Regions from separate parts of the Homo sapiens genome. Here all the other regions are linked to region 1. The links come from fine-mapping of genetic effects on gene expression. A gene starts in region 1. Each other region holds a variant in brackets. All regions are shown on one strand. Distances are between the middles of the regions. Region 1 holds the start of USB1 (U6 snRNA biogenesis phosphodiesterase 1). Region 2 overlaps CNGB1 (cyclic nucleotide gated channel subunit beta 1). Region 3 overlaps CNGB1 (cyclic nucleotide gated channel subunit beta 1).

Region 1 (2,826 bases):
GCAAGGTGCAGCCAGGAAGCCTCTGTGATCACTCCGCAAAGGGGAGAGAGGAGGCAAGGAGAGGCAGGGGAGGCCCCCCACCTGCGCCCCACCCCGTCTCTTCTTCCTCCCTGAGAAACCGAATGAAAGCCGATCACCTCCCGCCGGCCCTGCCTGCAGGCCCAGCTGGGCTGCGTCCTGTCAGCCCTCGTCCGGGATGGCCCGGCCGCTGCGACCCGAGGGCGAGCCCCGAGGGCGGCCGGGCTGGAGAAAGGCCCCAGGGCTACAGGCCGGGCCCAGGAAGCGGCTGCGCCTCGAGGCCCGGCCTGGGCCGCCCAGAAGCTCAAGAGGCCGCTAGGTCGCGGCGGAGGGGCGCGGGGGGGCGGCCGGGCCGGCAGAGGAAGGGGTGCGGCGGGCGCGGGGGTGGCCCCCAGATGCGGCCCCGGGCGCCCCGCCGCTCACCTGCTCCAGGCCGCCTGCAGGGCAGGCGCGGGGCGAGCGGCGACCAGCTGCTCTCTCGGCCGCCCCTTTATTCCGGCTCCATCCGCGGCGGCGCGGCCTACGCGCGCTGCCAATCCCCGGCCTCGCGTAGCGGCTGCGGCCGGACCGGGGGCGGGGGACGGGCTAGCGGCGGCCGGAACGGAGGAAGCGACGCGCGCTGCCGGAGTAGCGGGGCCGGGGCGAGGAGCGCCGGGAGGGCGGGCGGACGGACCGATGGCCTTGCGGAGACGGGCGGACGGGCGGGCGGCGCGGGGGCCAGGGAGGCGGGGCCGGGGGAGGAGCGGCATCCCGGGCGGCGGCGGCCAATGCGGGAGGAGCGGGCGGCGCGGAGCGAGGCCGCCCCCTGCCGGGGACCCCGTGGCCGGGCCAGGTCGGACAAGCCGGGTGCTCCGGGCGGTTTTCGAGTCGCCAGGCCTGGGCGCCTCGACTAACCGAGGAAGGGCGCTCTGCTTCCGGCCACCCCGCTCGGGCTTAGGGGAGGGGGCTCCGGGTGACCGCCCTCGGCCCGGCTCTGCGCAGGAGAGGAGGGGCCTCCTAGAGGCTCTGGTCTGCCACAATTGATCCGCCCCTAACTGCTCAGCTTGGCTTTTAGGGGCTTGGACTTTGGGCTGGTTTGAGGAGGGGGCTCCAGGACCTCTGATCCTGGCCGGGCTCGGGGCAGGCAGGGGTCTCCGCTGGGTCTAGTGCGCTGACCCGGGACTGTCGTGTCTGGTATGTCTGGTCCCGGGTGGCTGCAGACAGCAGCGGGCAGAAAGGTGAGGGCCCTGAGCGATATATGAAATGGGTACACGAAGGCTGGGGAGGTCCCAGCGGGGTGCCGGGAGGCTGCAGGTGACCAGATCCGCGTGCGCAGCCGGCAGACAGCTTGGAGTCGGTGGGCTGAATCTTCACCACTGTCCTGCCGGGTTCCGCCCCTCCCGGCTCCGCCCCGAGGCGGTGCCAGCCCAGGCCCCGCCCCTGGGAGGGCGCTTCCGGCACAGCGGAACTCCGGGTGCCGGTTGAGGTTGCTGGTGGACCTGCTCTGGTGGTCTTGGATGAGGCCCCATGAGCGCGGCGCCCCTGGTGGGCTACAGCAGCAGCGGCTCCGAGGATGAGTCCGAGGACGGGATGCGGACCAGGCCGGGGGATGGGAGCCACCGTCGGTGAGGAGTGAGGAAGTCTCTCCGGAGGGCGCGCGCATTCACCCTAGAGCCAGACGGGACCCGAATGTCTGGGGGTGGAGTGGGGAGGGAGGATGCGGGGCGGCTCTGGGAAGGAAAAGGGGACGCAGGAAGAAAGGAGGATCCAGAAGATATACCCCTCCCCCCCACCCCAGACAAAGCTCCAGAGTGGCCCCACCTGGCTAGGGCCAAGTTGGGAGGCCAGACCTGGGTTCGGGTCCAGCCTCGCGCTGGCCCACTCTATCGCCTGGCACACATCCCTGTACCATCCTAGGTCCGTTTCCTGATTTGAATACAATTGCGATAGTAATACTTGCTAAAGCGTAGGGAGAGCCTTTTCATTCATCCAGTAAATATTCACTGAGCACCCACTCCCTGCCAGGCTGGGGTCTGGTAATTCAGTGGTGAACAAAACCGTCGGCCTTACTTCCTGGGGCTTAGATTCTTAAATGCTAGGCCTTATCTTTGCTGAGTGCTTTACAAGCAGTAGCTCAGTTGATCCCACAATTGCTCTATCAGGTAGACATATACTTTCAGATGAGGCATTTGAGGCCCAGAAAGGGGACATGACTTGCCCAAGGTCATAGAGCTAGAAAGTGCTACTCCAGCTGCAGCCTGTCCAGCTTGGAAATGTGACCCCTGAACCACATTGTTGCATGCCCTGTTGTTTCCCATGGGGACCTTGTGCCCCAGAGTTGGAGACCCCAATGAGACAATACTGGAGAAACAATTTCGCTATCTAGAAGCTGCTTCCAGCACCAGGCTGGAAACACACACTCAGAGCCACCATATATAAGGGGTTACAACTTTTGTGGTATATACAAAGGTAGAGAATGCTAACAGGATAAATGTACTCATTTTTCTTTTTTTCTTTTGCAGTGGCCAGAGCCCCCTTCCCAGGCAGAGATTTCCAGTACCTGACAGTGTGCTGAACATGTTCCCGGGCACCGAGGAGGGGCCTGAAGATGACAGCACAAAACACGGGGGACGGGTGCGCACCTTCCCCCACGAGCGAGGCAACTGGGCCACCCACGTCTATGTACCATGTGAGTGATGTGTGAAAGGCAAGTTGCCAAGACCCATAGACCCGTAGGTGCCTCATGAAGGGCAGAATCTGGCCCCAACTAGAAGGAAGAAACCAGAAACCTCTAACACTGGTGGTGGGAAAGTCATTGACTTAGCAGAG
Region 2 (2,500 bases), 100 kb before region 1:
ACTTCCCTCTCAGGCCTCAGTCACCCCATCTGTAGACTTGGAGGAGTGACTACCCCATGCCCTCCATAACTGACAGGGTTGCAGTGGGGGAGTTAGTGATGTCATGGAATGGGAAGTGCCAGCTAACCTGGGAGGTGCAGGTATAATGGAATTCTGCAAATTCCAGTTAGACTCACTGATGGAGGCAGGGCAAATCAGATAGCAGCTCCCACCATCAAATGATGTCTACACCTGGCACATCTCAGGGGCTCGGGAAGAATTTGCTAACTGCAACAGGAATGGGAACAACAATAACGATAATATTCAAATTGCCTTTTTTTTTTTGAGATGGAGTCTCGCTCTGTCGCCCAGGCTGGAGTGCAGTGGCATGATCTTAGCTCACTGCAACCTCTGCCTCCTGGGTTCAAGCAATTCTTGTGCTTCAGCCTCCCAAACAGCTGCGATTACAGGCATCATGCTTCAGCCTCCCGAGTAGCTGGGATTACAAGCATGTGCCACCATGCCCGGCAAATTTTTGTATTTTTAGTAGAGACAGGGTTTTGCCACGTTGGCCAGGCTGGTCTCGAACTCCTGGCCTCAAGTGATCTGCCTGCCTTAGCCTCCCAAAGTGCTGGGATTACAGGCATGAGCCACTGTGCCCAGCCCCAAATTGCTTTATGCAGTGTACTACTTATCCTCAACAACCCTCAGAGTCGAGATCACTCTTTGCCCAAGAGCTGGGATCTGAACCCAGACAGTCTGGTTCCAGAGTTCATGGTTGTTATGGGTTGAATTATGTACTCCCTCCCAAATTCATATATTGAAATCCTCATCCCCAGCATCTCAGAATGTGACCTTATTTGGGAATAGGGTCATTGCAGATGTAATTCCTAAAGATGAGGTCCTTCTAGACCTAATCCAATATGACTGGTGTCCTAACAAAAGGGAAATGTGGACACAAAGACAGGCATAGAGACCAGAGGATGTGAGGAGACACAA[A/G]AAAAACTAGATGACCACCTACAAGCTGAGGAGAGAAGCCACCCAGCTTGTGGTGGAGTTGCACAGTGTCCCGCGGCAGCCTGGAGAATGAATACAATGGCCTTAATCCCAAGTTAAACCGAATGCATGCATGAATGAATAGCTTGCTTTGGACTGCAATTAGAAACACCTAGTCTGCCATGCGCCTTCCAATCCTCATGCCTTCACCGGCCCTTGTCCTGGCCAGCTACCTGTGAGTCACATGTGTTTAAAAGGGGAAGAGGAGGTCTACAGAAAAAAAAAATAATAATAATAATAATTAAAAAGGGGGCCGGGTGCAGTGGCTCATGCCTGTAATCCCAGTACTTTGGGAGGCCAAGGCGGGCACATCACCTGAGGTCAGGAGTTCGAGACCAGCCTAGCCAACATGGCAAAACCCTGTCTTGACTAAAAATAAAAAAATGAGCCGGGCATGGTGGCATATGCCTGTAATCCCAGCTACTTGGGAGGCTGAGGTAGGTGAAATGCTTGAACCCAGGAGGCGGAGGTTGCAGTGAGCCGAGATAGTGCCACTGCACTCCACCCTGGGAGAGAGAGTGGGACTTGGTCTCAAATAAACAAACAAACAAACAAATAAATAAATAAGGGGTGGGGGGAGTGACCAAGGACAGTAACTGTCACACTTTTGACTTATTTGACAAAAATTTCCTGTGCATTTCACACATGCATGACCCCCTTAACAAAAAGGTAGAGAGGTTTGCCTCCATGTTTCTGTTTAGTTTGACAAGAGTGAAAGGGTGAAGGGACCCTCACCTCAGTAACCAGTCCCCGGGGTGTCTCAGAGAGATCGCTGCCGAGCAAAACCAGACAGCAGAGGGCGCCCTTCACACGTGCTCACCAAGTGCTCAATTTAATTTGCAATCACAGACTCTAGATTCACTTTTTCTCATTTAAAGCAAACTCTGCATCACCCACGAAGACAACAGCAACAGTACTGGCAGCTGCTGTGTGCCAGGAACAATGTTAAGCTCTGTATGCACATCTTATTCAGCCCTCACAACCACCCCATGAGGGAGGTACTATCAACATCCCCCACTTTATCCATAAGATGAGCAGGACTCAGAGAGGGCAAGCCACTTGCCCAAGGCTGCACAGCCAGGAAGGGGCTCCAGTGTCAGGCAGGCCACTCTATTGCTCCCAAACCCCTCTTTGCCCCTAAGGTTGCAGCTTTAAATTCTCAGGTCTCTGAAGCATACTTTTCCCCTCTTCACCCCGGCTCTCTGCTTCCAGAAATTTCACTGCTGCACAGCATATAACCTGGAGACAGGGACTTTCTTGGGGACGGGGGTTCCCAAGTCTTGCAGAGCCTGCTTGGGTAATGTTTCCCCCCGTATGCTTATTAACGGTTTATTATTAACTTATTAACGGCTCTGTGCAAGAGGACTGAAACCTGGGTTCCTGACCCCTCCCGTCACTCACCAAGTGACCTTGGTCTCACCTTGAACCCCAAGGACAGGGAGCAGAAAGGGCTCTAGACATTGTC
Region 3 (2,500 bases), 110 kb before region 1:
CAACTGAAAAATTATAGGGTGAATTTGATGGCTACAGAGGAACAATTGCTTATTTATCTGAGAGACAGGGTCTTGCTCTGTCACCCAGGCTGGAGTGCAGTGGCACGATCATAACTCACTGTAACCTTAAATATTTGGGCTGAAATGATCCTCCCGCCTCAGCCTCCTAAAGTGCTGGGATTACAATCATGCAGCATTGCGCCCGGCCTGAAGTGATCCTTATTAACATGCACTGAGCTCTCTTGTATGACAGGCACCCCACCGGAGACATTCCTGCACACTATTTAATTTTCACAGCAGCAGGCCAGGCACAGTGGCTCACACCTGTAATCCCAGCACTTTGGGAGGCCAAGGCGGGCAGATCGCCTGAGGTCAGAAGTCCCAGACCAGCCTGGTCAACATGGTGAAACCCCGTCTCTACTTAAAATACAAAAATTAGCCGGGTGTGGTGGCATGTGCCTGCAGTAGTCCCAGCTATTGGGGTGGCTGAGGCAGGAGAATCGAATTGTTTGAACCCAGGAGGCAGAGGTTACAGTGAGCCAGGATTGCGCCACTGCACTCCAGCCTTGGCGACAAAGCAAGACTCCATCTCAAAAAAACAAAAAAAATTTACAGCAGCAAAGTAGGGGTTATGACCTTTATTTTACATAGGAGACAACTGAGACCAGAAAAGTTAAACAACTTCCTCAAAGTCACACAGCCAGCACCTCACATGGAAGGGATCTGAGCCCCGCCAGCCTCCCAGACCTATTGTGGGGTTCCTGACACACTACGTTGCCTGTCGCTCAATTTGAAACCTGATCTTAAGGGTTTGAAAACAAAAACCGGCTTTTCTAAAAAGAATGACCTGTTCCCCAACAATGCAAAATACGGATGCACACGGTTATTCGTTGCACCACTGTTTGTAATTGCAAAATTGTGGAAATACCCTAAATGTCCATTTACAGGAATGTTCTGCCACTGTGGAAAGGAATGAGGAAGCTGACTCTGCACTGATAGACAATGATTTCC[G/A]GGTTTTGTCGTCATGTGGAAACAAAGCAAAGTACAAGAATCTACAGCATGCCATATTTTGTGTAAGAAAGAAGAAGAAATAAGAAAATGTTTGGGCTGGGTGTGGTGGCTCACACCTGTAATCCCAGAATTTTGGGAGGCAGAAGCGGGCAGATCACCTGAGGTGAGAAGTTCGAGACAAGCCTGGCCAACGTGGCAAAGCCCCATCTCTACTAAAAATACAAAAATTAGCTGGGAATGGTGGCAGATGCCTGTAATCCCAGCTACTCAGGAGGCTGAGGCAGGAGAATCACCTGAACCCGGGAGGTGGAGGTTGCAGTGAGCCAAGACCTAACCACTGCACTCCAGCCCAGGCTACAGAATGAGACTTCATCTCAAAAAAGAAAAAAAGAAAATGTCTGTGGACTTGTCCATTTTCGCAAAAGTAAGCAGAGGAAAGAAAAGGCAGAAATTGATGCAACGAGCCACGTAATAATGGGAGTTGCAGTCAGGGGGCAATGGGGACAGGGAGAGTTGGGACGCTTTTCTGAGTGCCCCATTTTGCAGAGTGTTGACCTTCAGGAACATGTTAATGTTCTACATACTGAAAACAAGAAAAAGTCAACAAAGATCAGGGTGGCAGGAGCCCTAAATGGAATGTAAACTGAAACAAGTGAACCTACCTGTATTTCAAATGAATAAAGTAACCACATTAAAGGGTAGTGGAGGAAGAGAACGACTCCAGATAACTTTGAACGTAACACTTCCATCATATATACTCGGGCTAAACACAAAAGAACTGCATCCAGTACTGAACTCTACCTAGAAGCCTTACTTTTTGTTTTTACAGTGACATGGGCTGGAAATTCTGAAATGAACTTCCCTGTATTGCTCAGTGTTGGAGAAGAGATTTACAAGTATGAAAAGGGAGAATATTAGAATGAATTCTAATATGTGGTGGCAGGGCACGGTGGCTCACACCTGTAATCCCAGCAACTCTGGGAAGCCAAGGCAGGCAGATCACCTGAGGTCAGGAGTTTGAGACCAGTCTAGCCAACATGGTGAAACCCCATCTCTGCTGAAAATACAAAAATTAGCCAGGTGTGGTGGCACATGCCTGTAATTCCAGCAGAGGTTGCAGTGAGCTGAGATGGCGCCACTGCACTCCAGCCTGGGTGACAAGAGTGAAACTCCGTCTCAAAAAAAAAAAGAATGAATTCTGTGGTGCTGGATTGAAATTGTTTTATAGATAATCAGTAGAATAGACAGAAAAATTTAAGTTGGCATATACATGTATATGTGTGTGTATGTATTTTATATATACATAATATATTATATATGTATTTTTTATATATATATATATATTTGTACTTATACATCTTGGTGTGTATGTGGGTGTGTTTCTTGGTTCTGTCTGCTGCAGAGGCCTAGTAGCACTCCAGTAGCAATGACTGCTCCTAGGACTCAGATCGTGGTTTCTAAAAACCATCCCCCAGTAAAAGGAATCAAG

The links.
Region 2: its variant is fine-mapped to the expression of USB1 in whole blood (TOPMed, PIP above 0.99).
Region 3: its variant is fine-mapped to the expression of USB1 in whole blood (TOPMed, PIP above 0.99).

The regions. Positions count from the first base shown.
Region 1 is chr16:57,999,960-58,002,785 of GRCh38, forward strand. It overlaps USB1 (U6 snRNA biogenesis phosphodiesterase 1), which reads left to right and starts at 1,448. Exons shown (of 7, transcript NM_024598.4): 1 at 1,448-1,622; 2 at 2,520-2,686. The coding sequence starts at 1,525. It overlaps ZNF319 (zinc finger protein 319), which reads right to left and starts at 713. Exons shown (of 2, transcript NM_020807.3): 1 at 1-713. RefSeq lists enhancers at 1-66, 924-1,093, 1,266-1,560, 1,587-1,686 and silencers at 187-316, 367-966, 1,257-1,506.
Region 2 is chr16:57,898,072-57,900,571 of GRCh38, forward strand. The region is part of intron 29 of CNGB1 (cyclic nucleotide gated channel subunit beta 1); the gene reads right to left. Among named protein-coding and RNA genes, the nearest start is that of CNGB1, 72 kb to the right of the region's middle. The variant A/G (reference allele first, on the strand shown) is at 979.
Region 3 is chr16:57,893,214-57,895,713 of GRCh38, forward strand. All of the region lies in intron 31 of CNGB1 (cyclic nucleotide gated channel subunit beta 1), which reads right to left. Among named protein-coding and RNA genes, the nearest start is that of CNGB1, 77 kb to the right of the region's middle. The variant G/A (reference allele first, on the strand shown) is at 1,012.